7 linked regions of the Homo sapiens genome follow. The protein of the gene in region 7 purifies or fractionates together with the protein of the main gene of each other region. This does not show direct contact. Each region holds a gene or a part of one and is shown on either strand. Other genes may lie near its edges.

Region 1 (3,500 bases), on a different chromosome or scaffold from region 7:
TCCACCTTATCACAAGAAACACCCTTAAGGAGGGCACAAACTCTTTTCCAGCAGCACAAGTTGGAAAGCAACACTATCACACAAAAGCTTGAAGCCATGTTCATCATAAAAAGTAGTTCAGGAGTTAGGCATGAAAAAGGGAAGGTAATACTAAAGATGAATGGATAAAAATCAAGGACCAAATATATACTGATTTTTCTTCTATGTCAAGTATATGCTTCCAAATAATACAACCACGTATTAGAGAAAGATAACCAAAATAAGTAGTAGATCAGAGACCAAGAGATCAGGTTTTTCTAGGTATTTTAACTGTTTGACTTCAGGTAAAATGTTTTAACTAATCTTGCCAAGTTTTTAATCTATAAAACGAAGTCAGCACAAATGAGAGATTCCTAGAATTTGTAACACAATGACTTCTTTTTAAGAATTTTCTCCAAAACAGTTTCCATATTTTAAATAATTTTAACCCTCAGTATACCGGAAAAAAACAGTTTTTACCCTTTTTCTCTGGGTACAGTAGACCACTTTTTATATTTTAAAATATTTTTAAGTTAATTTCAAATAATGAAATACAGAGAATAAATAAAAAAGATAACAGATAAAAGAACAGATATTGAAAACCAATTATTGGAACCCAATTAAAAAGAGGTAAAGGATTTGAATAGACAATTCTCTAAAGAAGATACAAAAATGGACAAAAAGCATGAAAAGATGTCCAACATCACCAATCATTACGGAAATTCAAATCAAAACCACAATGAGATACTGTGTTACAACCACTAGGATGGCTAGAATAAAAAAAAAATAAGAAATGTTGGCAAGGATATGGAAAAATTGGAACTCTCATACATTATTGATGGGAATGTAAAATCGGGTGGCCACTTTAGAAAACTGTTTGGCAGTTCCTCAAAATGTGAAATACAGAGTTACCATATGATCCTATGTATATACCCAATATAAATGAAAACATGTCTTCACATAAAACATGTACATGAATGTTTATGACAAGATAACTCATGTAATCCCAAAAGTGAACTGACCCAAATGCCCATCAAGTGATGAGTGGATAAACAAAATGTGGCATATATCCATACAGTGGAATATTATTCAGCCATAAAAAGGAATGAAGCACTCATATGTACTAAGCCATGAATGAACCTTGAAAACATTATGGCAAGTGAAAGAAGCCAAAGACACATGTTACATCATTCCATTTATATGACATGGAATCTCTAGAGACAGAAAGCAGATTTCTGGTGCCATGGGTTGGAAGGAGGGAGAGTAGGGAATGACTACTAAAGGGTACAGAATTTCTTTTCTAGATGATGAAAAGCATCTAAAAAATTAGATAGTGGCTGGGCACAGTGGCTCACACCTGTAATCCCAGCACTTTGAGAGGCTGGGGCAGGTAGATTGCTAATAGGTCAGGAGTTCAAGACCAGCCGGGCCAACATGGTGAAACCCCATCTATACTAAAAACACAAAAAAATTAGCCATGTGTGGTGGCACGTGCCTGTAATCCCAGCTACTTGGGAGACTGCGGCAAGAGAATCACTTGAATCCAGGAGGTGGAGGTTGCAGTGAACTGAGATAATGCCACTGCATTCCAGCCTGGGTAACAGAGCAAGACTCTTGTCTCAAAAAAAAAAAAAAAAAAAAAAAAAAAAAAAAAAAAAAAAAAAAAAAATTAAATAGTGGTGTTGATTGCACAACTCTGTGGCTATATTAAAAGTCACTGAATTGTACACTTTAAAAAGTAAATTTTATATAGTGGATTATGTCTCAGTAAAGCTGTTACTTAAAAATCAATAAAACTAGGCCCAACACAGTGGCTCAGGATGTAATCCCAGCACTTTGGGAGGCCAAGGCAGCTGGATCCCTTGAGTCCAGGAGTTCGAGACCAGCCTGAGCAACATGGTGAAACCCCCATCTCTACAAAAAATGCAAAAATTAGCTGGGCATGGTAGCTCATGCCAGTGGTTCCAGCTACTTGGGAGGCTACGGTGGGAGGATCACTTGAGCCTGGGAGGTGGAGGCTGCAGTGAGCTGAGATTATGCCACTGCATTCCAGCCTGGGTGACAGAACGAGATCCTGTCTCAAATAAAAATAAATAAATAAAGTTATTGGAGATTTTACTAAGCAATTAAGTATAGCAAATCCAAATTTATATTACATGTTTTACTGATTTTGAAGGTAAATTTAACCAAAATGGGCAAAGTCATTTGAATGCAGTTTTCTGTGCATCGGCTGCCACATACAAACCTAGAATATATGCCTTCTGTACGTCCTGATCCCAGATTCCAAAGACATCTTTAATAGGTTCTAACTTATAATTTCCTCTGGTTTTCTCATATGTGTATCATCTAAATAATTTCAGATTATAAATGCATTTCTAGTAGAATCTAGCTTATCACTACTTCCAATTCTTCTTCTTGTACTTACATATCCAAAATGCAATACTTTAAAAAACTTTGATGTCTCATACTTTTTTTTTTTTTTTTTGAGGCGGAGTCTTGCCCAGGCTGGAGTGCAGTGGCACAATCTCGGCTCACTCCCAGGTTGACTCCACTCTCCTGCCTCAGTCTCCCGAGTAGCTGGGAGTACAGGTGCCCTCTACCACGCCTGGCTAATTTTTTGTATTTTTAGTAGAGACGGGGTTTCACCATGTTAGCCAGGATGGTCTTGATCTCCTGACCTCGTGATCCACCTGCCTCAGACTCCCAAAGTGCTGGGATTACAGGGGTGAGCCACTGCGCCCGGCTGATGTCTCATACTTCTATTGAAGAGAGGATGGCCCAGCCATCTTCTTTGCTCTATACTTGCAAAATATTTTCATTATTAAATTTATAATCACCAGTTAACACAATCAATCCAGAAAACAATTTCATGTCTATATAATCAATTTCCTTTCAATCATTGTTGTCTTTGCCTTTATGTTCAGCATTTGTCAGTTACAAAACACATCAAATTAATTTTGGTGCACAAATATCATAGAACAAAAATGATCGTCTCATTTTAGCAAACAGGATGTTCCAGGTTTTTGTTACAAAGTATTACATGATGAGTTCTTTTTCAAAGATTGACTGTAGAAGGCCACCATAATTCCTTTTTAATTCTTGGAGATACAGTGTTTACTCATTGATTCTTGAATTTGAGAAAATTCATTGAAGACACTGTCATCTGAAGACTCACAGTCTGAGATTTTGCTTATACAATCAATTTCATCATCATCATGAGCATCCAGAGAGCTATCTATCTCTTTGCATTTGACTTCTGATTCGTCTAAGAATTGTGGAACATGTTTTTCTGTCAATTTTAGACATTATGAGCAAAAAATTAAAAATTTTTGAAATTTTCAATTGTATTAAATGAAAATTAAAACAGAGCAACTACAAACATAAGAGTCTCTGAAGACTTTATAACTTCTTAAAAAACAGATGTAATGCTTTGGACAACACCATAGGAAAACTATATGATGACATAATAGTGATAATTTATT
Region 2 (3,401 bases), on a different chromosome or scaffold from region 7:
CATTCTCCTGCCTCAGCCTCCTGAGTAGCTGGGACTACAGGCACCCGCCACCATGCTTGGCTAATTTTTTGAATTCTTAGTAGAGACGGGGTTTCACCATGTTAGCCAGGATGGTCTCGATCTCCTGACCTCGTGATCCACCCGCCTCGGCCCCCTAAAGTGCTGGGATTACAGGCGTGAGCCACTGAGCCCGGACGAAATGTTAATTTGTTTTTTTTGAGACGGAGTCTCACTCTGTCATCCAAGCTGGAGTGCAGTGGCATGATCTTGGCTTGTTGCAACCTCTGCCTCTCTGGTTCAAGTGATTTTCCTGCCTCAGCCTCCAGCATGACTGGGATTACAGGCCCGCACCACCATGCCCAGCTAATTTTTGTATTTTTTAATAGAGATGGGGTTTCACCATGTTGGCCAGGCTGGTCTTCAACTCCTGATCTCAAGTAATCTGCCTGCCTTGGCCTCCCAAAGTCCTGGGATTACAGGCATGAGCCACGGAGCCCAGCCTAGAAATGTTAATTTCTAACGCATGTCAGATTCCATGCACACTGGGCAAGGTTCCATTCCTCCATGGGGTGACTCAGGGATCCAGGCCAATTGCATATTGAGACTCTTTCATATTATCCTGTGGCCTTCAAAGTCGTCACCTCTAGGGATGAGAAACAAAAGGGACAAGCCAGCTGGTAGGGTCTTGGACAAGAAGAAAGACATCACTTCTGCTCACATTCTCTTTTGACAAAACTCAGTCACATGGTCCCAATATATCTTCGAGGTGGCTGAGTAATGTTATCTTCCTATGTGTCAAGCAGAGGAAATAATGTAGTGAAGACACAGGATGGTCTCTGAAATATCATCTCAGGCATGAAAGTAGAGCATATTCACTTGAGTGAGCCTCCAGTGGTGTGAAGTTGATGGCAGGAGAAAGAGCTGGGGAAGAAAAGGCCAGTGGCAGGTCTCCCCTCCTAGCCCTATGCAGCCCCACAGTGGGACCCTTGCATGGACCTCAACCATCAGAATCTTTTCTTTTGCAGGTCGTTACTCTCTGACCTATATCTACACTGGGCTGTCCAAGCATGTTGAAGACGTCCCCGCGTTTCAGGCCCTTGGCTCACTCAATGACCTCCAGTTCTTTAGATACAACAGTAAAGACAGGAAGTCTCAGCCCATGGGACTCTGGAGACAGGTGGAAGGAATGGAGGATTGGAAGCAGGACAGCCAACTTCAGAAGGCCAGGGAGGACATCTTTATGGAGACCCTGAAAGACATCGTGGAGTATTACAACGACAGTAACGGTCAGTGAATAACAGACCACAGGGGTGGAAGGTCTAACCCAAGAGGCAGCCCCCCCAGTGTGAGTGGCAAGGGATCAGCAGGATGGAAATAGTCCCAATCCCAGGGGAAGAACAGGAGACACAGCAGAAACACAGACATGTCCACATCCCACCCACCCCACAGCACAGGTGCTCCCCGCTTCCCCATCAATTGCCCCATCCTCATCCCAGGCCTCAGGTCACACAGGAAGTGATGGCAGAGTCACTTCCTATCCAGGCACCTATGACCTCTCACCTCCACACCCCACCCATCGGAGGCTGATACCCCCGTGAGAAGGCATCAGACTCACCCCTGTCCAGGGAGGTTGCCTGGAGAGTGAGCCACTCTCAAAGTCACTCAGACCTGGGCTCACCTGGTGGTTCTGCCAGTCCTAGCTGTTGACAGTGAAACGTTCCCAAAATATCTGGTTGAAATCTGCAAACATTGGAGCACTGAGACCTACCTCCAAACAAGTCTGTAATATTTAACTATGTCTGTTCTATGAAGGATGTCACAGTCTGTCCTGATCTCCCTTGCAGCTCCATCACCTAGCACAGGGTACAGCCAATATTGGCTCAATTGAAATTTGTGGAATCAACAGAGAAAAGCACCCAGCACACACCGTAGCCCATGCTGGGGGCTCAGGAAGTGCTGGATTCAAAACTGTGGGCTGTTAGAGTTCCTTGGAGCCCTAAAGTTCCTCCTTACCATACGATGCAGACCCAGGAAGGGCCACCTGCGCTATGGTCAGAGGAGCTGGTGGCAGAGCCCGTGCAGAGATGGTCCCTGTGCCCCCGGCCCAGTGCTCTTTCTCCTAAACCACACTGCCAGCCCCAAGGCAGCCAACCTCAGGTCTGGTGAACTGCTGGTGTTAAATTATCATAGAGTGGGTGTCAAAAGATGGGCTACTAAGTACAAAAATGCCCAAGGTGCTACATGGGATCTGAAGATTTTCAAAAGGAGGCAAGAAAGAGATAGGCAGATGTTTCAAGGATGTGGGGTGGGGGAGGTCTTGGTAAGGAAAATGGCCCAGGCTGTGTGTCAGCAATAGGAGAGGAGGGGGCACAGGTGATCAGAAAAGACACTGGGGGAAGCATTGATGGACAGGAATAGAAATGGCAAAGTGGATAATTAAGAGGAAGGAGGATGAGGAGATGAACACAGGGTATTAGAAAATAATAGAAGGCAGGGCTTGGTGGCTCACTCTTGTAATCCCAGCACTTTGGGAGGCTGAGGCAGGCAGATCACCTAAGGTCAGGAGTTCGAGACCAGCCCGGCCAACATGGTGAAACCCTGTCTCTACTAATAATACAAAAATAGCCTGGCATGGTGGCACACGTCTGTGGTCCCAGCTACTCAGGAGGCTGAGGCAGGAGAATTGCTTGAACCCAGGAGGCAGAGGTTACAGTGAGCCAAAATCCTACCATTGCACTACAGCCTGGGTGACAAGAGTGAAACGTTGTCTAAAAACAAAAAACAAAAAACAAAAAAAGGAAATAATAGTAGCTGACATTTACTGAGCACTTACTTTGTGCCAGGCCCATCTATGAGCATATATAATGCTCAGAATAGCCCCCTAAAACAGTGCTCTTGGCATTGCCATTTCAGAGGTGAGGAAATAGAGGCACAGGGAGTTGAGTGGCTCCAGTTCAGGCAACACACCAGGTGGGGGTGGGGGGCTGGGGAGAGACCTGGGACGTGAGCCCAGACAGCTTGAGAGCTTTCAGAGTCTATGCCAACAGCACCAACCAGTGCTGGGTAAACACCTGCTTTTATCATCAGAACAAAGAGGCTGTGTCCCCTGCCCTATGAGGTCCATTTCTGAGAGTTGTGGCTAATGGGCAAGAAGGTTGGGGCTTTAGAGATTTGGGATAAAGATATCAAACACCAGAAAGGTAGAAAGAAGTGATCAGATTAGGGTTACTTAGGTGATGATATGAACTCTTCCTAGAACTGAGAGAAAAAGAGAGCCTTCCTTTACTCATATGAAATCACAAATAATTTCTATCCAATTTGGAAGTACACTTTGGTGTAGTTGTGACAGCTTCCTCAGGACTCAGCATAAATTCAAACAAATAATTGTCCTTAGAAGAGAT
Region 3 (4,007 bases), on a different chromosome or scaffold from region 7:
AGTAGAGATGGGATTTCAGCATGTTAGACAGGCTGGTCTCAAACTCCTGACCTCAGGTGATCTGCATGCCTCAGCCTCCCAAAGTGCTGGGATTACAGGCGTGAGCCACCGCGCCCAGCCCCACTTCTTTATTTTTATTTTTTTGAGATGGGGTCTCACTCTGTCACCCAGGCTAGAGTGCAGTGATGTGATCATACATAGCTCACTGCAGACTGGAACTCCCGGGCTCAAGCGATCCTCCCACCTCGGCCTCTCAAGTAGCTGGAATTACAGATGCACCACCACACTCAGCTAACTTCAATTCTTTCTTTCTTTCTTTCTTTCTTTCTTTCTTTCTTTCTTTCTCTCTCTCTCTCTTTCTTTCTTTCTTTCCTTCCTTCCTTCTTTTCCTTCCTTCTCTCTCTTCTTCCTTCTTTCCTTCCTTCTTTCCTTTCTCTCTCCCTCTGTCTCTCTTTTTTGAGATGGGGTGTCGCTATGTTGCCCAGGCTGGTATCAAACTCCTGGACTCAAGCAAACCTCTGGCCTTGGCCTCAGAAAGTGCTGGGATTACAGGCATGAGCCACTGTGCCTGGCCAAACCCCACTCACTTCTGAGCATACACGTGGATCCTTCCCTTGTCTCTGACTGCAAGGAGATTTCTGACTTACCCCAGCCAGGGCAGGGAGTTGAGGGAACCAGGTGGGACATGGTAGGACCCTCCCCTCTCAGCCCCAAACCTGGACGGAGGTCATGAGACCCAGCACTAGAGGTTTCTAGTCCCCAACTCCATGGCTCTGCACCTCTCTCCAACCTGGGCTCCTCTTGTGGGAAGCTGGGGTCCTGTGGAGGAGACAGTCCTAGCTTCCTACCCCCTTGCTGGGCGTCCCCACATGGGGAACAGTGTGGGTGTCAGCGTTTCTGTGCTCCTGAGCACATGGCCTGAATTCTTGTCCCATACTTGGAGGCGGCAGATTAATTTAGGGGGCGAGTTCTGGTAGGGAGGCCCCCCTCCAGCAGCAGCATTCTGAGCTCTAGAACCCATGTCTGGGGGATAAGAATATGGAACAAATAACATCAGGTATCCCTCCCAAGTCACTGGGGAAAGACAAGAAGACTCTGGCTTGCCCTCTGGGGAAAAGAAAACCTGAATTCCAGAGCTCACAGCTCCAGGTGGGAGTCAGTGTCAAATCCTCTCTCTTAGACAGATCGGAAATGCCCTTTCCTACAGCCAGATAGTGAGCATGGTAGAGTGATATTTGGGACCCCTCCTGGTGAGGAGGGATGGGTAGGGAGACTCATGAACCCCATAGGCAGGATGGTGGGGACAGTTGTTAGTATACCTGTTTTATTTATTTATTTATGTTTGAGATGGGGTCTTGGTATGTTGCCCAGGCTGGACTCAAACTCCTGGGCTCAAATGATCCTCCCACCTCAGCCTCCCAAAGTATGGTGATTACAGGCATGAGCCACCATGCCCGGCCAGTATACCTGTTTTCCCTATTGGCTAGAAGGTCCTGCATTTTAACTTCTAGCTGGAGGATAGGCAAAAATAATACCTGGGGACCCTCTGAAGTTAATGGGGGAACGCCTGAGTCATCTCCTCCCATGGCTGGGACATGGCGGGTAGTGTCAGCACACTTGTAGCCCTTCCTGCAGGAAGGATCCTGAACTGAATTGCCAGCTTGTGGCTAGGGGCAGACTGGGAGGTAGAGGGACAAAAGCTGGAACCACTTCTGGGGAGCAATGGGAGCCCAGGATGACCTGCCGGGAGGATGCCTTGAGCTCCCCACCCCATGGCTGGGTGTTGAGGTGTCAACAATGAATGATCTGCTCCTGGGAGAAGCTGTGGGGGGACCTGTGGCTCCCCTTCTGGGGAAAGGAATACACTGAGCCACAACCCCATAGCTGGGAGTGTGCAGGCAAACAGAGCCGAGTTCCTGGACGGCGGTCCTCAACCCAGACCCCATAGTTGGAGAGTGGGGGAAACAAGACCTGGGACCCCTCCTGCATCAGGGGCAGAGGAACCCTTAGATTGCCTCCAGGGGAAGGAGCCCCCTGAATTCCCATCTCTTAACTGGAAGGTGGGAGGAGAAATCACTTAAGTCTTTCCTGAGTTCCCAGGGGTGAGGGCAGGTGGACCCCTGGATCACCTCCAGGGAAAGGAGCTTCCAGAACTGCAGACCCCAAGACTGGAGGGGCAAGGGAACAATCGCTGGGACCCTTCCTAGGGTCCTGGGGGAAGAGGGAACCCCTAGGTCCCCCTTTTGAGGACAGGGCCTCCTGAACTCCAGACCCCAGGCGGGAGGTGGGAACAATACCTCGAATCAGGAGGGGAGGGGGTCCTGGATCGCCTCCTAGGGAGGGGGCGTCCTGAGCTCCAGACCCCAGAGCTGGCGGGCGCCCCCCACCCCGCCCGATTGAAGGCTCCCAACCTCCTGGCCCTTTCCCCCCGGGCCCCAGCGGCGGGATGGGTGCGCTAGGCCGGAGCTGGCCGCAGAGTCCCCTCCCCATCGCTCCCGCGACCCCCGCTCGCCTGGGCCAGGGCCGGCGGCGCGCAGGGCGGGGGACGATTAGAGGTCGCCCCGGGCTGCGCCCCGCGCCTGGAGCTCCCCCGCCCGCCCGCCCCCCACCCAGCCCCCCGCCCCGGCCCCAGCCCGCTCGCAGGGACACTCACCCGGCGCCCCTCGCCCCTGCCCGGCCCGCCGCGCCCGCGCCGGCCGCCGGCTCCCCCCGGGCCCGCAGGAAGCCCCCCGCCCGCCAGCCCCGCCGGCGGCCCCCTCGGCCCAGCGGCCCCGCCAGGCGCTCCCGGGGAGCGAGAGGGGCCGGCCGAGGGCCGCAGCGGGAGCTGCTGGGACTTGTAGTTCGCCCGCGCCCGCCGCGGCCGTCGCCATCGCTGCCCCCGCCCCCCGGGCAGGCCTTTGTCCCCGGCCAGGCCACCCCGACCGCGCGGCCGCGCCTTTGTCTGCACCGTGCCCCGCCCGCACGCAGCCCTGGCCCCATCCCTAGTCTCCTCCTGGGCCTGTCTCAGTCCCTCTGTGGCCCTGGCCCTATCTCTTTCTCTCCATCCCTGTCCCTCTCTCTGTCTCTCTCCGTCCCTATCTCTCTATCTCTGTTCATTCTCTGTCTCTGTCCCTGTCTTCCCATCTCTGTTCCTTTCTCTGTGTCTCTGTCCCCATCTCTTTCTCTGTGTTCCAATCTCTTTGCCTCTGTTGCTTTCTCTGCCTCTATCTCTCTCTGTGTCTGTCTGTCTCTCTCTCTCTGTCTCTGCCTCCTGCCCATGTCTCTGACTCTATCTTTGTTCGTAAAACTCTACACATGTTGTTCTTGGAGACTTGCAGCGCACATAGGCACAGCCAAGCCTCTCAGCTCTGCAATCTAAAAACATGTCTATTTTTGCTTAACCTGGCCTTCCTCCAATTTTTCCTTTTTGCATGGTGAAACCCGTCACCCTTTCTGGGTAACACCCGCCAAGGCACAGATTTGGGATATTCCTCCTCTAGTGTTTTCAGCCTCCTACCCAGATGGTGGGTCACCGCTGTCCCTGGAGGCCTCCAAGTGCTAGATGTGAGTGATGGTTTCCGGAGAACCCTACGCCGGGCCGGGAAGGGCTCGGGGCAAACTTTCCTTGGAGACACAGATCCCCGCTGCCAGCCAGGAGAGAGAGTGGAAATCAGCTCCTGATGGCTGGGCCGCGATGTTCTCCACTAAATATAAACAATGGTCACAGAATATAAACAATGATGAGGCAAGGCCACTCTGTGACCATGTCTGAACCAAGATAGAGACATGGGCCCTGTGCAACCACAAAAATGAGTTCTCATCCCCCTCTCCAAGTGAACACAAATGACTGCCACTTCTTACCGACGACAATTCCAACCCAACTGCCATCCTCCCACCTCTGAGACAAAAATCACTGAAATACCTAGTCAGCAAAGCGCTCCCAGGTTCCCGACAATACCACCCTAGTAATTCTCTGTAAAACCACCCAGTATAGGCTGGGTGCGGTAGCTCATGCCTGTAATCCCAGC
Region 4 (3,168 bases), on a different chromosome or scaffold from region 7:
GGAAAGGGAGGGAGGGGAAGGAAAGGGAGGGAGGTGAAGGCAGGGAGGCAGGGGAAGGCAAGGAGGCAGGAGAAGGCAGGGAGGCAGGGGAAGGCAGGGAGGCAGGGGAAGGCAGGGAGGCAGGGGAAGGCAGGGAGGCAGGGGAAGGCAGGGAGGGAGGGGAAGGCAGGGAGGCAGGGGAAGGCAGGGAGGGAGGGGAAGGCAGGGAGGCAGGGGAAGGCAGGGAGGGAGGGGAAGGCAGGGAGGCAGGGGAAGGCAGGGAGGGAGGGGAAGGCAGGGAGGGAGGGGAAGGCAGGGAGGGAGGGGAAGGCAGGGAGGGAGGGGAAGGCAGGGAGGCAGGGGAAGGCAGGGAGGGAGGGAGGAAAAAAGAAAGAAAAAAAAAGACAAGACAAGAAAAGAAAAGAAAGAAGAGCATCTGGGAATTCCAAACACACCAGGCTGTAGTCAGCACAGACTCCCACTCTATGCCACCATTCAATAAATATATACTGAGCACCTACTACTGCAAGGCTCAGTTCAAGCAGTCTGAGTCTCCATATGTAACAAGAGGTTCCTGACTCTTGCAGGCTTAGAGGGAACATGCCAACACATTTCTATCATCGCTCTGTGCCATTTCTAATGATATGTGCAATAAAGACCACTGAGTTTACTTCCAGAGCATCAGAGCGAAGGCACCAAGGGGTGCTATTTGATATGGAACTCAAAGACAGATGGCAGAGGCAGCACAGACAAGGGAGATGTTCCAGAAGGAAAATGCAAAAGCCTAGAAGCCAGAAAACACATGGCACACTTGAGGTGTAGAAAATGGGATGGGTCTACGGGAAGAGGTGGTTCGTTTAGGGAAGGGTTGTGGGGCTGTCTTTGGGGTCTGATAGACCCAGGTTCAAATCTGTCTGTGTAACTTCAAGCAGGCTGAGGTATTCTGAGCTCCATCTCTGCATTTATAAAGAAGATAATCATAAGCCTCAGAGGTTGTTATGCAATGATTTAAGGTAAAATAGTAGCACTTGTCCACTGTATAGTGGGTGCTTAATAATCGCTCCCTTCCTCGCTTGTCTTGACTCTGGCAGTAACAGGAAGAAATCACGGAGAAACCTAAGCAGGGATCAGACACGACTACCATGTCGCATTTTCTCTCTCCCATGGCACTTTACTTTTTGTCTGTACGCAAATACATGTTCAAGCAGCTGAGAGAAAGAAGACAGATTTGTGGTTCTCTCAGCTGTCACATACAACCACAGCTGACTAGTGTGTTCCTGCATCCACACAGTGGGGTCCCCTTCCTCCATCCATGAATCAAGGAGACTCAATTTGGGACCCAAAAGAAGAAAAGCTGAGTGTGGAAACACAGCTCTCTCAGCCAGCTGCCCTTACCTTCATGGAGTCATACAGCCGATCAGCAAAATACAGGGGCTTGTTCTGAATGCACTGAACTGTGGAGAGAAGAAAGGGAGTCAGCGCTGCAGCTGCTCTGGTCTCTCCTCTACCAATGAGAGAGGATGCCCTGGCCCTGGGCCACAAACCAGAAGTGACCTAATGCAATGGAAAAGGGCTGCAAAATAGGACAGGCTAAGGGAAATCTAGAAATCCTCTGCAATACTAAGTTCCACCACGGTTTTAAACCAGGGGTCTCTGAGGCCTGCAGAACCCAAGTGCATACGTGAGTTTCCACAACACACCCCTCTCTCCTCCTGTTCTCTTACTCCTCCCTGGCAACAATCTGTTACCAAGTTAGGCCTTTCTTCAGTTTTATATTCTGAAATCTATACAATTAAGACTGTAAAACTATCCAAAGCATGCATAGAAGCCACACCTCCCAAACACATTTGGATTAACAGGATGGCCATCTGTCACTTCTGCTCTGGTAGCTGATGTCTACCAGGAATGGGGGCCACATTCACTTACCCAGGTTCAGGAAAGCATTTTCCAGGTCTCCTTTAACCTCTTTCCTGATGCTTTCCAACATGTCATAAGGGCTGTAACTCTTGTACCTATCAAATACTGAGGAAAAACAACAAAGAGTTATCAGATCCGAGCCACTAGTCAAAGCTGTCAACGATCACCCACCTAGTTTTATGCACCATAATTTTTTTAAAAATTGAGGATGATCACAGCATCCTAGGAGCTTAGAGGTTACCACGGTGACCAGAGCCAACATTGGCCAAGTTTGTCGTGGAACAGCCATACCACCTGTCCTGAATGGCACTGCCCAGGCCACATATTTGGACCATCTCTATCTCCCCTGAGTGGAACCCATTCCATCCGAAAACCATAGGAAACAGTACAGAGCATGCACCAAAGTCCACTACTTCAACAAATAATGGCAAGACCAAATGATCATCAAACAAGAAGGAGCTGCAGAATAAAGCACCAAATGCAGAAACTATTTGCAAGAGAAAAGAATCCAGAATGGGAGAGAAAGGTGAGGGAAAATGGGTGAGCCTATGAGAGTGCCAAGCGGAGACAGAACCTCATTCTGGCAGACTCCATCCCAACATGGACATCCACCCAGCCGCCCCAGCCAGGGCCCCAAGGCACTGAGACTCCCTCAGCACAGTGCCCACCTTTCTGGAGGTGGGGCACGCTCCGCTCGGTCATGATGCTGATCCACTTGGGAACATCAGTTCCTTTCCTCTTCACTCCAGCGTCATAGAGATCCTACGAGTACAACCAACCAGGAAAAGTTAACTACACATCCAATGTAACGTCAAAAAAAATGTCATGCAAAAAAAACAAAAAAAGCTACACATTCAAAATGCCAAACGAGGAAAGATGATTATACTGCAGACATGGGCAGAGACCTACTATTTAGGTCAAAAGTCTTAATCACAAGCAGTCTTCCTTAGGCACAGATGGATACCATATGAGACTGCAGATAGTTCGTGAGGTCTGCTGTACAATCTCCTTCCTTGAATAAGAAAGGAGGGACCAAGAGCTTGTATTCATATAAAGAAGAACAAGTAAATGTTCATTAACACATCTGGCCCTCCTCCCTTTGGGCACATTTAGGGGCAGATAAGCTAGCAGATGTTTACTGGACAGCTACAGACCAGGCTCTCATTCTCAAGCTTCTCAGAGACTCAGGGAGTGATGGAGCTGGAAAAGGAGCCCATCTCATCTCACTTTCAGTTTCTGGAAAATTTAGGGGCTACAAGTAGCCCTAACAAT
Region 5 (3,500 bases), on a different chromosome or scaffold from region 7:
ATGACAGGATCACATTCTGTTGCCCACGATGGAGTACAGTGGCGTGACCTCAGCTCACTGCAGCCTCCACTACCTGGGTTCAAGTGATTCTCCTGCCTTAGCCTCCTGAGTAGCTGGGATTACAGGCATGCACTACCGTGCTCAGGTAATTTTTTTTTTTTGAGACGGAGTCTCGCTCTGTCGCCCAGGCTGGAGTGCAGTGGCACAAACTCGGCTCAATGCAAGCTCCGCCTCCCGGGTTCACGCCATTCTCCTGCCTCAGCCTCCCGAGTAGCTGGGACTACAGGCACCCGCCACTACGCCCAACTAATTTTTTTGTCTTTTTAGTAGAGACAGGGTTTCACTGTGTTAGCCAGGATGGTCTCGATCTCCTGACCTCATGGTCCACCCACCTCGGCCTCCCAAAGTGCTGGGATTACAGGCATGAGCCACCGCGTCCAGCTGTGCTCAGGTAATTTTTATATTTTTAGTAGAGATGGGGTTTTGCCATATTGACCAGGGGTCTCGAACTCCTGGTGTCAAGTAATCCACCTGCCTCAGCCTCCCAAAGTGCTGGGATTACAGGCATGAGCCACCACACCCAGCCCTCATCAGAAAATTTAACACTGTACCTCTTCTATGCTATCTGTTAAGAAACAGAAAATCCTTGGCATCAATCTTCCCAACGTTACTTTCACTATATTTTACCTCTACTCAAGAACTTTCTCTATTGCCTGTTGTGACAAAGCCTAAAATCACATAATTATCTATTCCTATTTCTCTGTATTCTATCAGATCAACCCATCACTGTGGTCAGCTGTCTCTTTACTTCCCCTGAGAACAGAGTATACATTTCTGCTATGCATCTTGACTTACTCTGTCCTCCCTTTTGTAGAATGCTACCCCTCTCTCCCCATCTTTCCAAATTATACCCAGCCATATCATACCAATCTTTTAAGGTACAATTGTGGCTTTATGCCCTTCTTTAGGTCTTATCTAAATACCTAAACTAAAACTGATGCATATTTTCCTTTTTTTTAGAGACAGGGTCTCCCTATGTTACCCAGGCTGGTCTTGAACTCCTGGGCTCGAGTGATCCACCTGCCTCAACCTCCTCCCAAAATGCTGGGCTTACAGGCACGAGTCACCAAGCCAAACCTGATGCATGTTCCTGAAACTTCTCATTCATTTATATAAGTCGTCCACCCCACTCATCCTTGACACTTAACAGGCTTGCCTAGTACTGATATGTATGTCCCTAGCATAAGTTTTTTCAAGAGCTAAAACTATCTTATGTTTCATTTGTGTTTCCCAGTCTAAAAGAACACAGAGCACAGAAAATACTAAAAAAAAAACAGAATGCATTAAGCTGTATAAATGACTGGGACCCTTCTGATCTTGAGATTCTCTTCTACAATACAAATGGCAAAAGTATCTTAGAAGGAAGATACTTATATTTCTTCTCCCATCATTGATTTTCCTTTCACTGAGGGAGGGCTCTTAATTAACATTCCCATTTACACCTCTCCATGGCCATTTCTGTCTCCAGGGCTTGTCTCCCCACCCCACTCCCACGTTTTCTACCCTTTCTACATGATTTTCAAATCGTCTTCTGTCTTTCCCCATCCCCATAATTTTGGTTCGTCTGTATGCACTTGTTTTTCTTCTTCTGACAATTCTCATTTGTCTTTGCATGTAAGAGTGTATTTTCTCACTCACTTCAAATTTATCTTAGTGACTGTTTGGTTTCATTCATAATGTTGAGCATGGCTTTTTCTTTCCCTCATTCTTCTCCCACATATTTGCCTCTACAAATTTCACCTGCTGTTTCTTCAGTCAGTCCTGGCATGAGCTGGATATGGACATGAACACCTCTTTAATTTCATACTCACCAGCATAAGTGCTTTTGTACACGTCACTCTCCTTGGACTCCGGTGGGGCCCCAACCTGAGGCTCTTCTTCTTGTTTAATCCAAGACAGAATATCTGATGTTGAAATACCAGGCTCTAATTTGTGGGAGGAAAAAAAAATGGCCTTCATGAACTTGAATAAGAAGGTAAGATAATCAAGTTGGTTTGCTGAACACTATATTTTGCCCCAAATATTTTTCCTTTCTTTTTTTCTTTTTTTGAGACAGAGTCTCGCTCTGTCACCCAGGCTGGAGTGCAGTGGCACGATGGCTCACTGCAAGCTCCGCCTCCCAGGTTCAAGCCATTCTCCCCGCTGCCTCAGCCTCCCGAGTAGCTGGGACTACAGGCGCCTGCCACCACGCCCAGCTAAGTTTTTTTTAAATTTTTTTGTTTTTAGTAGAGATGGGGTTTCACCGTGTTAGCCAGGATGGTCTCGATCTCCTGACCTCATGATCCGCCCACCTTGGCCTCCCAAAGTGCTGGGATTACAGGCTTGAGCCACCGCGCCCGGCCCCAAATATTTATTTCTAAATAACTATAACAATAACACAGAACCAGCCTTTTAAAAAATGCATACAGGATGGGTGTGGTAACTCACGCGTGTAAGCCCAGAACTTTGGGAGGCCGAGGCAAGTGGATCATTTGAGGTCAAGAGTTCAAGATGAGCCTGACCAACGTGGCAAAACCCTGTCTCTACTAAAAATAAAAAAAATTAGTCAGGCGTGGTGGCAGGCGCCTGTAATCCCAGCTACTCAGGAGACTGAGGCAAGAGAATTGCTTGAACCTGGGAGGCAGCGGCTGCAGTGAGCCGAGATCGCACCATTGCACTCCAGCCTGGGCAACAAGAGCAAAAAAACTCCATTTCAAAACAAACAAACAAACAAAAAACAAATCAACTTCCAGAATTACAAAGTTAGTTCAGTATAGACACAGAATCCAACTCCCTAGAAACACACTTTTCAGATTCCCAATTCTGGGCTCTTTCTATGAGATATATTATCTTTGTCTATTAAATGATACAAGTCATTGTTTCCTAAATGCTGGGAGGGGGAAGAATATAGTATTGGCAAGTCCTTCAGGTCTTGGGGGTTCTTTCTGAAAGAAAAAGTGCACAGCCAATATCGGCTTTGCACACAACATGCCTCATCTGATCAGTACCAAAACAGCTGTGCTAGCTATTACAACCTAGGCCTATATGGCTTTATTATTTTTTTTTTTTTGGACTAAATGGACAAGTTGGCAAGCTGACAAGAGAGCTTGTCAAGCTCCAGAGAGTCCCCTGAAGCTCTCTATAGTTATTTCTCAAACACAGCCTTGTGGGCAGAATATGGTTTAATTCACAGCAAATTAACAGAACTGACTACTTTACCCAATGTCTTCTAAATCAGTTAGACGCCACTGAAATCTAAAGGTGTTCTCAAAGCAGAAATAAGAGGCTGGGGTAAGACGAAAGCCCAAACGACCATCGGTTATGGGGAGCGATTTGGGAAATAGATTTTAGCATATGCAACAGTTGCCTTGCCAACCTCCTGTTCTGACCTAAAAGAAAAGCTGAAGTGTATTAAACATAGTCCAATCTTATCTTTGTTCTCTTCCAGATGTTATACACAT
Region 6 (3,500 bases), on a different chromosome or scaffold from region 7:
GTATGTGTCACAAATAGTTCCACCTACCTGCTGGCCTACAAGACATGCTACTCTCCTCTCTCCGGGAATTTTTTTGTTTTTTTTTGAGATGGAGTCTGGCTCTGTCGCCAGGCTGGAGTGCAGTGACGCAATCTCGGCTCACTGCAACCTCCGACTCCCTGGTTAAAGTGATTCTCTGGCCTCAGCCTCCCGAGTAGCAGGGATTACAGGCACGCACCATCACACCCAGCTCATTTTTGTATTTTTAGTAGAGACAGGGTTTCGCCATGTTGGCCAGGATGGTCTCGATCTCCTGACCTCGTGATCCGCCTGCCTCAGCCTCCCACAGTACTGGGATTACAGGCGTGAGCCACCACAGCCGGCCTCTGGGATTTATAAGTAATAAACTCCTTCTGTTATTTCCTGTGTTTGTTGAATTGTCTCCTCCGAGTCTCACCTAATTGCCTAACTGACACACCTGACTACTATTTGAACCTAACTACTATCATAATCGGGGCTCTCTTGGTAGGAACAGAGTGGTAGTGTTTATTAGCCACTAATAGATACCGGATTAGTGGCTACTCTAGTCTAGGATTAAACTGACAATGGTCAGACAAGATCTACAAGGTGCCTGCTTGTACAGAGCAAGTATAAACAAGTGTGCTGTGAGAGGGACACCTGGTCATGGGTATAACATCTAGGCATCAGGCCCTCCAACAGAATGAAGAAATATCCCTTGAAAGGCACATTTTAAATATCCTCCAAGAAATCCCCCAGAGCCACACCAGGACAGGGATAAAGTTTTAGCCAGTCTCCAGCTATAAACAAGATCAAATCAGAAAAACACAAACCTCTTAAAAACAAAAGCAGCCAGGCACAGTGGCTCACGTCTGTAATCCCAGCATGTTGGGAGGCCAAGGCAAGTAGATCACTTGAGGTCAGGAACCCTGTCTCTACTAAAACTACAAAAATTAGCCGGGCATGGTGGCTCACACCTGCGATCCCAGCTACTCGGAAGGCTGAAGCACTGGAAACACCTGACGCCAGGAGGCGAAGGCTGCAATGAGCCAACATCATGCCACTGCACTCCAGCCTGGGTGGCAGAGCGAGACTCTGTCTCCAAAAAAAAAAAAAAAAAGAGAGAGAGAGAAAATAAAAAATTTTAAAATTTTAAAAAGTAGCAAACTTTCATAAGTTACAATTTTTTTTCCAACTTGACAGTAGGGAGAGTGTTCTTTATTTAACCTGGGAGCACAGATTCAAGTTGCCCTAAATATACACTCTCTAGAATGTTCTCTTACAAGAAAATTAAGTAGGCCTGAAAGGAAGAGCCAAAGTCAACTCAATTAAAATCAAGAAGAGTACCCTTCCCCACCCTTGATGATGGTGCATGCAGAAGGCGGCCAAAAAAGCCAACAAACAAAAAAATTTAAGAGTCCATCAAAATGTAGAATGGAGTGAAAAGATAAATCACTCCCTGGAACAAAATATTAGCAATCCCTATAAATGAAAAAGAATTAGCCTACAGAGTAAGTTAAAAAAAGAAAAAAGGGAAGAAATGAAGCAATAAATATACAAATGACTTTAATGTGACAAGATGACTGAAAACTATTTTACAGAAGATGAAAGGCCACACAGAAAAAATGCTCAATCCTAGTGTAAAAAGCAACATGTAATCACACAGAGAAAAATAAAGAGAACTACTTATAAGGAGTAAATACACATGCATACATGGTCAGATGGTTAATCCATATATTCCATTGGCATTCCCAAGTCAATCTATCTATAAGCTACATCCCAGGGATTTTTTTTTCCAATGTATAAAAAACTTACAAAGCAGCCAGGTGCGGTGGCACACACCTGTAATCCCAGCACTTTGGGAGGCCGAGGCAGGCAGATCACGAGGTCAAGAGATCAAGACCATCCTGGCCAACATGGTGAAACCCCATCTCTACTAAAAATAAAAAAAATTAGCTGGGTGGGGCCTGGCGCAGTGGCTCATGCCTGTAATCCCAGCACTTTGGGAGGCCAAGGTAAGCAGATCACCTGAGGTCAGGAGTTCAAGACCAGCCTGACCAACATGGAGAAACCCTGTCTCTATTAAAAAAACAAAATTAGCCGGGCGTGGTGGTGCATGCCTATAATCCCAGCTACTCTGGAGGCTGAGGCAGGAGAATCACTTGAACCTGGGAAGCAGAGGTTGCAGTGAGCTGAGATTTTGCCATTGCACTCCAGACTGGGCAACAAGAGTGAAACTCCGTCTCAAAAAAAAAAAAAAAATTAGCTGGGTGTGGTGGCATGTGACTGTAATCCCAGCTACTTGGGAGGCTGAGGCAAGAGAATCACTTGAACCCAGGAGGCAGAGGTTGCAGTGAGCTGAGATCGCGCCACTGCACTCCAGCCTGGCCTGGCGACAGAGCGAGACTCCGTCTCGAAAAAAAAAAAAAAATTTATGAAGCATGGCTGGGCACAGTGGCTCATGCCTATAATCCCAGTGCTGAGCCCAAGGGTTTGAGTGCTGGGCAACATGGCAAGACCCCATCTCTATAAAAAAATACAACCATTAATCAGGCATGTGGCACACGCCTGTAGTCCCAGCTACTTGGGAGGGTGAGATGGAAGGATTGCTTGAGCCTGGGAGGCCAAGGTTGCAGTGAGCTGTGATTGCACCACTGCACTTCAGTCTGGGCAACAGAAGAAGACCTGCCTCAAAAAAAAAAAAAGAAGTTTATGAAGCATTAGCACTTGGAGACAAAAACAACAATTACATTGGCAACAGATAAAATACTAACAACTCAAATCAAGCAGTGGAATGGTTAGTAACCTGGGTGACCCACAGCCTCAGACAGCAGCATGTGTGCAACGGACTGAGGCAAAGAAACCACAAAAGGCCGGGCGCGGTGGCTCACGCCTGTAATCCCAGCACTTTGGGAGGCCAAGGTGGGTGAATCACAAGGTCAGGAGATTGAGACCACCCTGGCTAACACAGCGAAACCCCGTCTCTACTAAAAATACAAAAAAATGGCCGGGCGTGGTGGCTCACGCCTGTAATCCCAGCACTTTGGGAGGCCAAGGTGGGCAGATCACGAGGTCAGGAGATCGAGACCACCCTGGCTAACACAGTGAAACCCCGTCTCTACTAAAAATACAAAAAATTAGCCGGACGTGGTGGCAGGCGCCTGTAGTCCCAGCTACTTGGGAGGCTGAGGCAGGAGAATGGCGTCAACCCGGGAGGCAGAGCTTGCAGTGAGCCGAGATTACGCCACTGCACTCCAGCCTGGGGGACAGAGAGAGACTCTGTCTCAAAAAAAATAAAAATAAAAATAAAAATACAAAAAAATTAGCCGGGTGTGGTGGCGGGCGCCTGTAAGTCCCAGCTACTCGGTAGGCTGAGGCAGGAGAATCGCATGAACCCGGGAGGCTGGGCTTGCAGTGAGCCAAGATCGCTCCATTGCACTCTAGCCTGGGCAACAGAGCGAGAGTCCGTCTCAAAAAAAAAAAAAAAAATTCAGAATCAGTAC
Region 7 (3,500 bases):
AATAGGACAAGAAGCCAGATCTCTTTATATATATATAGGTAGATATAATTTTTCCTCCTTAAAATATAAATAATTTTAATTATATATAATTATTTTAATATAGATATTTTAAATCTTATAATTTATATATATATATAATTTATATATATATATATATCCAAAGTAGTGGTGCACAAACTTTTCAACTCTGTGTCCTTTCTCTTGTCTAATTCAACAGACATTGATGAATGCAGAACCTCAAGCTACCTGTGTCAATATCAATGTGTCAATGAACCTGGGAAATTCTCATGTATGTGCCCCCAGGGATACCAAGTGGTGAGAAGTAGAACATGTCAAGGTAAGTTTATTTTTTTTTTCATATGTTAGGTATTTAGTTTTAGCCAGGAAGAGACAAGAGGAAGTTATAGGATTCTCCTATAGACTTTCATTTTTCCCACTTTCAATATACAATTTAAGCTCTTTTTTCCCCTGTTCATCATAAAATATATACATCTCATAAAGAGGTGATTCTATGCTAATGCCGACATTTTTCGTCCTTAAAAGATAAATAATTTTAATAAAATATTGATATGTATTCTATGTAACCTACATCATCTCTTTGAGATACATCTTCAAATCATCCACTGGAAAAGATTCAGTTATTAAAATGTTTCACCTGTGAGTTTGAGTTTAGAGCATAAGCTCAATATGTGAGTTAAACATACCTCCATCCAGTCTTAGCCCTCTAAAACACAAGGATTATAAATTGCGTAAGAATGTAGGTGCTGAGAAAAGTCAGCCTAATATGTTGTAAAATATAGTTGAATATTTTAGAGAAAACTACTAGCCCCAAAATAGCTAATGACCTTGGGTCCAGTTTCAAAATAAACATTCAGATGATCTTCACACCTATACGTAAGTGGAAGAGGCAGCTCCCCACAATGGTATGATTTCAGAGTTTCTCAGGAAGATCTAAAAAAAAAAAGGACCCTACCTCCAATGTTGCATGTAGTTGAAAATTTTCTTAACAGGGAAAGGACTGTCAGATAAAACCAAAAACGTAGAAAATCCTGGAAAAGCTAGTACAAACACTTAAATTTACACAAAGCAACAAAAGAATGAAAAAATGACCAAACTTGACAGAAAACCTGTTTGAATCCCAGCTCCACTGTATTCAGTCTGCACAATCTTGAACAAATTATCAAACTACTCTGAGCCTCAGCTTCCTCATTTGGAAAAGGGAGTTGTGGGAATTTAGTGGAATAACATACATAAAAATAATTTGTAAACTATAAAGCTTGTACAGGTCAAGGTGTTTTTATGAAATTTACTTACCAATGTAAGTGACCAGTAGTACGTCTTCTGTAGAGAGTCCTTTTTAATCAGAGTTGGAGTGAAGGCACACAAGGACAATAAAGATCCTGTTAAGAAAAGAAAGATCAAGGAAAGGAGACACTGGGGATTCTCAGTCTATATCATGATTTTACAGGAAAATATTAACTTAGAGGAAATCCATTACCTGGGATTTTATAATAGGCACACAATTTTTCGACTAGACTCCAACCACTGAGTATGAGCATAATCAGAATGTAGTTCATTGCACAATGAACATCTTTATAACCCTTTCCAGGTTACTAGAGACTTTATAAATGTTAATTATGGGAAAACATTGCATTCCAATGATTTTACTTACTGAACCCTAATTGAGACTTTCAACATGCATATTACATGCAAGAAAATGTTAGCTAGTGGAATGTCTTAACAAATTTCTCTGGAGTCCTTCAAACAAATATCTATGTGTTTCTGATCAAAAATTGATTTGATGCTCAGCAAAAGACAGAAGCAGATTAATGCACGGTGGGATCCGACCTGCCTAGCCTATCTATGTGGAAACATTTATATCTATTGTAATTAAAGGTGGAAAATGCACCAAAATTGTAAGTGGGGGATTCCTAAATGTTATATATTGAAGATATGCAGCTTCAGAATGTTTGGTTAAGCCAAAACATTTTTTGTGAAAAAGACTTAGCATTCTTCTAAAGTATAAAGCAATTGCTTTCTCCTACGGAAATCGTTCCTTCTGAGCCTTGTCCACAGGAATAAAATGAAATTGAAAGTTTTGGATTCTTAACTTTCTCTAAAAGACTTATTTTGTGGATGAAATAACTGTTCTCATTTCACAGGCCTATACAAATGAAAACTGTGTGTGTGTGTGTGTGTGTGTGTGTGTGTGTGTGGAGAGAGAGACAGAGAGACAAAAGAATACACATACACATAGACACACACTCATCAAATATTTTGAGAGTATTAATTTCTGAAAAATCTTCCAGAATGATTAAGGTGATGATTATGCTAGGCTCTACATTAATGGAAGTAATAAATGAAATTATAAGGTTGTCTTTTGCTTCTGTTGGACTCCATATAACAAATAAGTATTAGTTTTCCCTGTACCTAAACAGCATCTTTATTCTTCAAAAAAGTGGAAAATACTGAAAGGATAAGTCAATTGTGATTTCATTTGAAGAATCTAAGTTTTCTTTCTTCAGCCATAGCCAGCCCAAGAAGACACTTTTTGTAACTGTCTCTTGGAGACTACCTAGCTTTCCCAGTCTGTTCTTGAGTTCCAGATAACTTTAGCCAGTTTGGAAGCTAAAATACTTTTTTTTCCTCCAAAGTCAAGGCATGAATTATTTAGAGTATATGAACTTGAATGAGCCACTAAACCCTTATTTGTTTTTCATCCATATCAAGTGGAAATATCTTTCTCACCTACCTCCACACAGTTTGTGTGAAGAGCAACTTAGTTCAATTTAATATTTCTTAAAAGCCAGATGCTCTATTGCATTAATGCTAGGTGATGAAAGGATTAAAAGATGGGTACAATAACCCTTGCCCTCAAGGAGTTTACAAGCTAATAGAAGGGTTAAGCTAGACATGCAGATTGCAATAATGCAAAGCAGAAAGCAATAAAGGCCCTTAAAAAAGAACACCGGGTATGAGAATTCAAAAGAGATCATATCCCAGCACCTAGCCCATGCTTGGCTTACAGCAAGGATTCAGTAAATTACTTATGGAATGAGTAAATTCATGAATAAAAATATCTCATTGTGGAGAAGGAATGATTCAGAAAAAGTTTACATTGAATAAAATATAAATCACTATTCAAATGTAAAGGGAGACAGACATAGAGATGTAGATATTAATTTTATTTTTATTGTTGTTGTTGTTGTTGTTATAAATGTAATGGCTCTCTAGTAAAACTGTTCTCTCAGATGTCATCTGGAGGCTTCTGATTCCCAAATTTAAAGTCAATCTTTGTCCAGCCTGAGGTAAACACAACCCTTCTTCCCAGGATTCTCTCTCCCTCTGACTTCTTTGGCATTGCCTTTTCCTGGGTTGTCTCCCTGCACTGACAGCCTCTTCCTTAACTTCCTCTTTTTCCTTACAGTCCTAAAATTGCTATGCTCTATGAGGTGGAACACTTCATAGTTTCACTTCCTGTGCTGTGCTTCCTCTGGACA

What was found.
Region 1: the proteins of EFEMP1 (region 7) and POLR3G purify together in Homo sapiens (affinity purification with mass spectrometry; 2 studies listed by BioGRID and IntAct, with this or other methods). This does not show direct contact.
Region 2: the proteins of EFEMP1 (region 7) and AZGP1 purify together in Homo sapiens (affinity purification with mass spectrometry; 2 studies listed by BioGRID and IntAct, with this or other methods). This does not show direct contact.
Region 3: the proteins of EFEMP1 (region 7) and ZNF358 purify together in Homo sapiens (affinity purification with mass spectrometry; 2 studies listed by BioGRID and IntAct, with this or other methods). This does not show direct contact.
Region 4: the proteins of EFEMP1 (region 7) and ANXA2 purify together in Homo sapiens (affinity purification with mass spectrometry, with the first as the bait; one large-scale study listed by BioGRID). This does not show direct contact.
Region 5: the proteins of EFEMP1 (region 7) and ZNF398 purify together in Homo sapiens (affinity purification with mass spectrometry; 2 studies listed by BioGRID and IntAct, with this or other methods). This does not show direct contact.
Region 6: the proteins of EFEMP1 (region 7) and ZNF136 purify together in Homo sapiens (affinity purification with mass spectrometry; 2 studies listed by BioGRID and IntAct, with this or other methods). This does not show direct contact.

What each region holds. Positions count from the first base shown.
Region 1 is NC_000005.10:90,491,864-90,495,363, reverse strand, and holds part of POLR3G (DNA-directed RNA polymerase III subunit RPC7), read right to left. Parts: intron 1-3,500. UniProt on the Homo sapiens protein: DNA-dependent RNA polymerase catalyzes the transcription of DNA into RNA using the four ribonucleoside triphosphates as substrates.
Region 2 is NC_000007.14:99,969,631-99,973,031, reverse strand, and holds part of AZGP1 (zinc-alpha-2-glycoprotein precursor), read left to right. Parts: intron 1-1,025; coding exon 1,026-1,286; intron 1,287-3,401. UniProt on the Homo sapiens protein: Stimulates lipid degradation in adipocytes and causes the extensive fat losses associated with some advanced cancers. May bind polyunsaturated fatty acids.
Region 3 is NC_000019.10:7,514,896-7,518,902, reverse strand, and holds the start of ZNF358 (zinc finger protein 358), read right to left. Parts: upstream 2,801-4,007; 5' UTR 2,654-2,800; intron 221-2,653; exon of another isoform or gene 198-220; intron 1-197.
Region 4 is NC_000015.10:60,349,819-60,352,986, forward strand, and holds part of ANXA2 (annexin A2), read right to left. Parts: intron 2,659-3,168; coding exon 2,565-2,658; intron 2,002-2,564; coding exon 1,906-2,001; intron 1,434-1,905; coding exon 1,375-1,433; intron 1-1,374. UniProt on the Homo sapiens protein: Calcium-regulated membrane-binding protein whose affinity for calcium is greatly enhanced by anionic phospholipids. It binds two calcium ions with high affinity. May be involved in heat-stress response.
Region 5 is NC_000007.14:149,174,953-149,178,452, reverse strand, and holds part of ZNF398 (zinc finger protein 398), read right to left. Parts: intron 1,986-3,500; coding exon 1,872-1,985; intron 1-1,871. UniProt on the Homo sapiens protein: Functions as a transcriptional activator.
Region 6 is NC_000019.10:12,169,596-12,173,095, reverse strand, and holds part of ZNF136 (zinc finger protein 136), read right to left. Parts: intron 1-3,500. UniProt on the Homo sapiens protein: May be involved in transcriptional regulation as a weak repressor when alone, or a potent one when fused with a heterologous protein containing a KRAB B-domain.
Region 7 is NC_000002.12:55,871,783-55,875,282, reverse strand, and holds part of EFEMP1 (EGF-containing fibulin-like extracellular matrix protein 1 precursor), read left to right. Parts: intron 1-217; coding exon 218-337; intron 338-1,314; exon of another isoform or gene 1,315-1,400; intron 1,401-3,500. UniProt on the Homo sapiens protein: Binds EGFR, the EGF receptor, inducing EGFR autophosphorylation and the activation of downstream signaling pathways. May play a role in cell adhesion and migration. May function as a negative regulator of chondrocyte differentiation.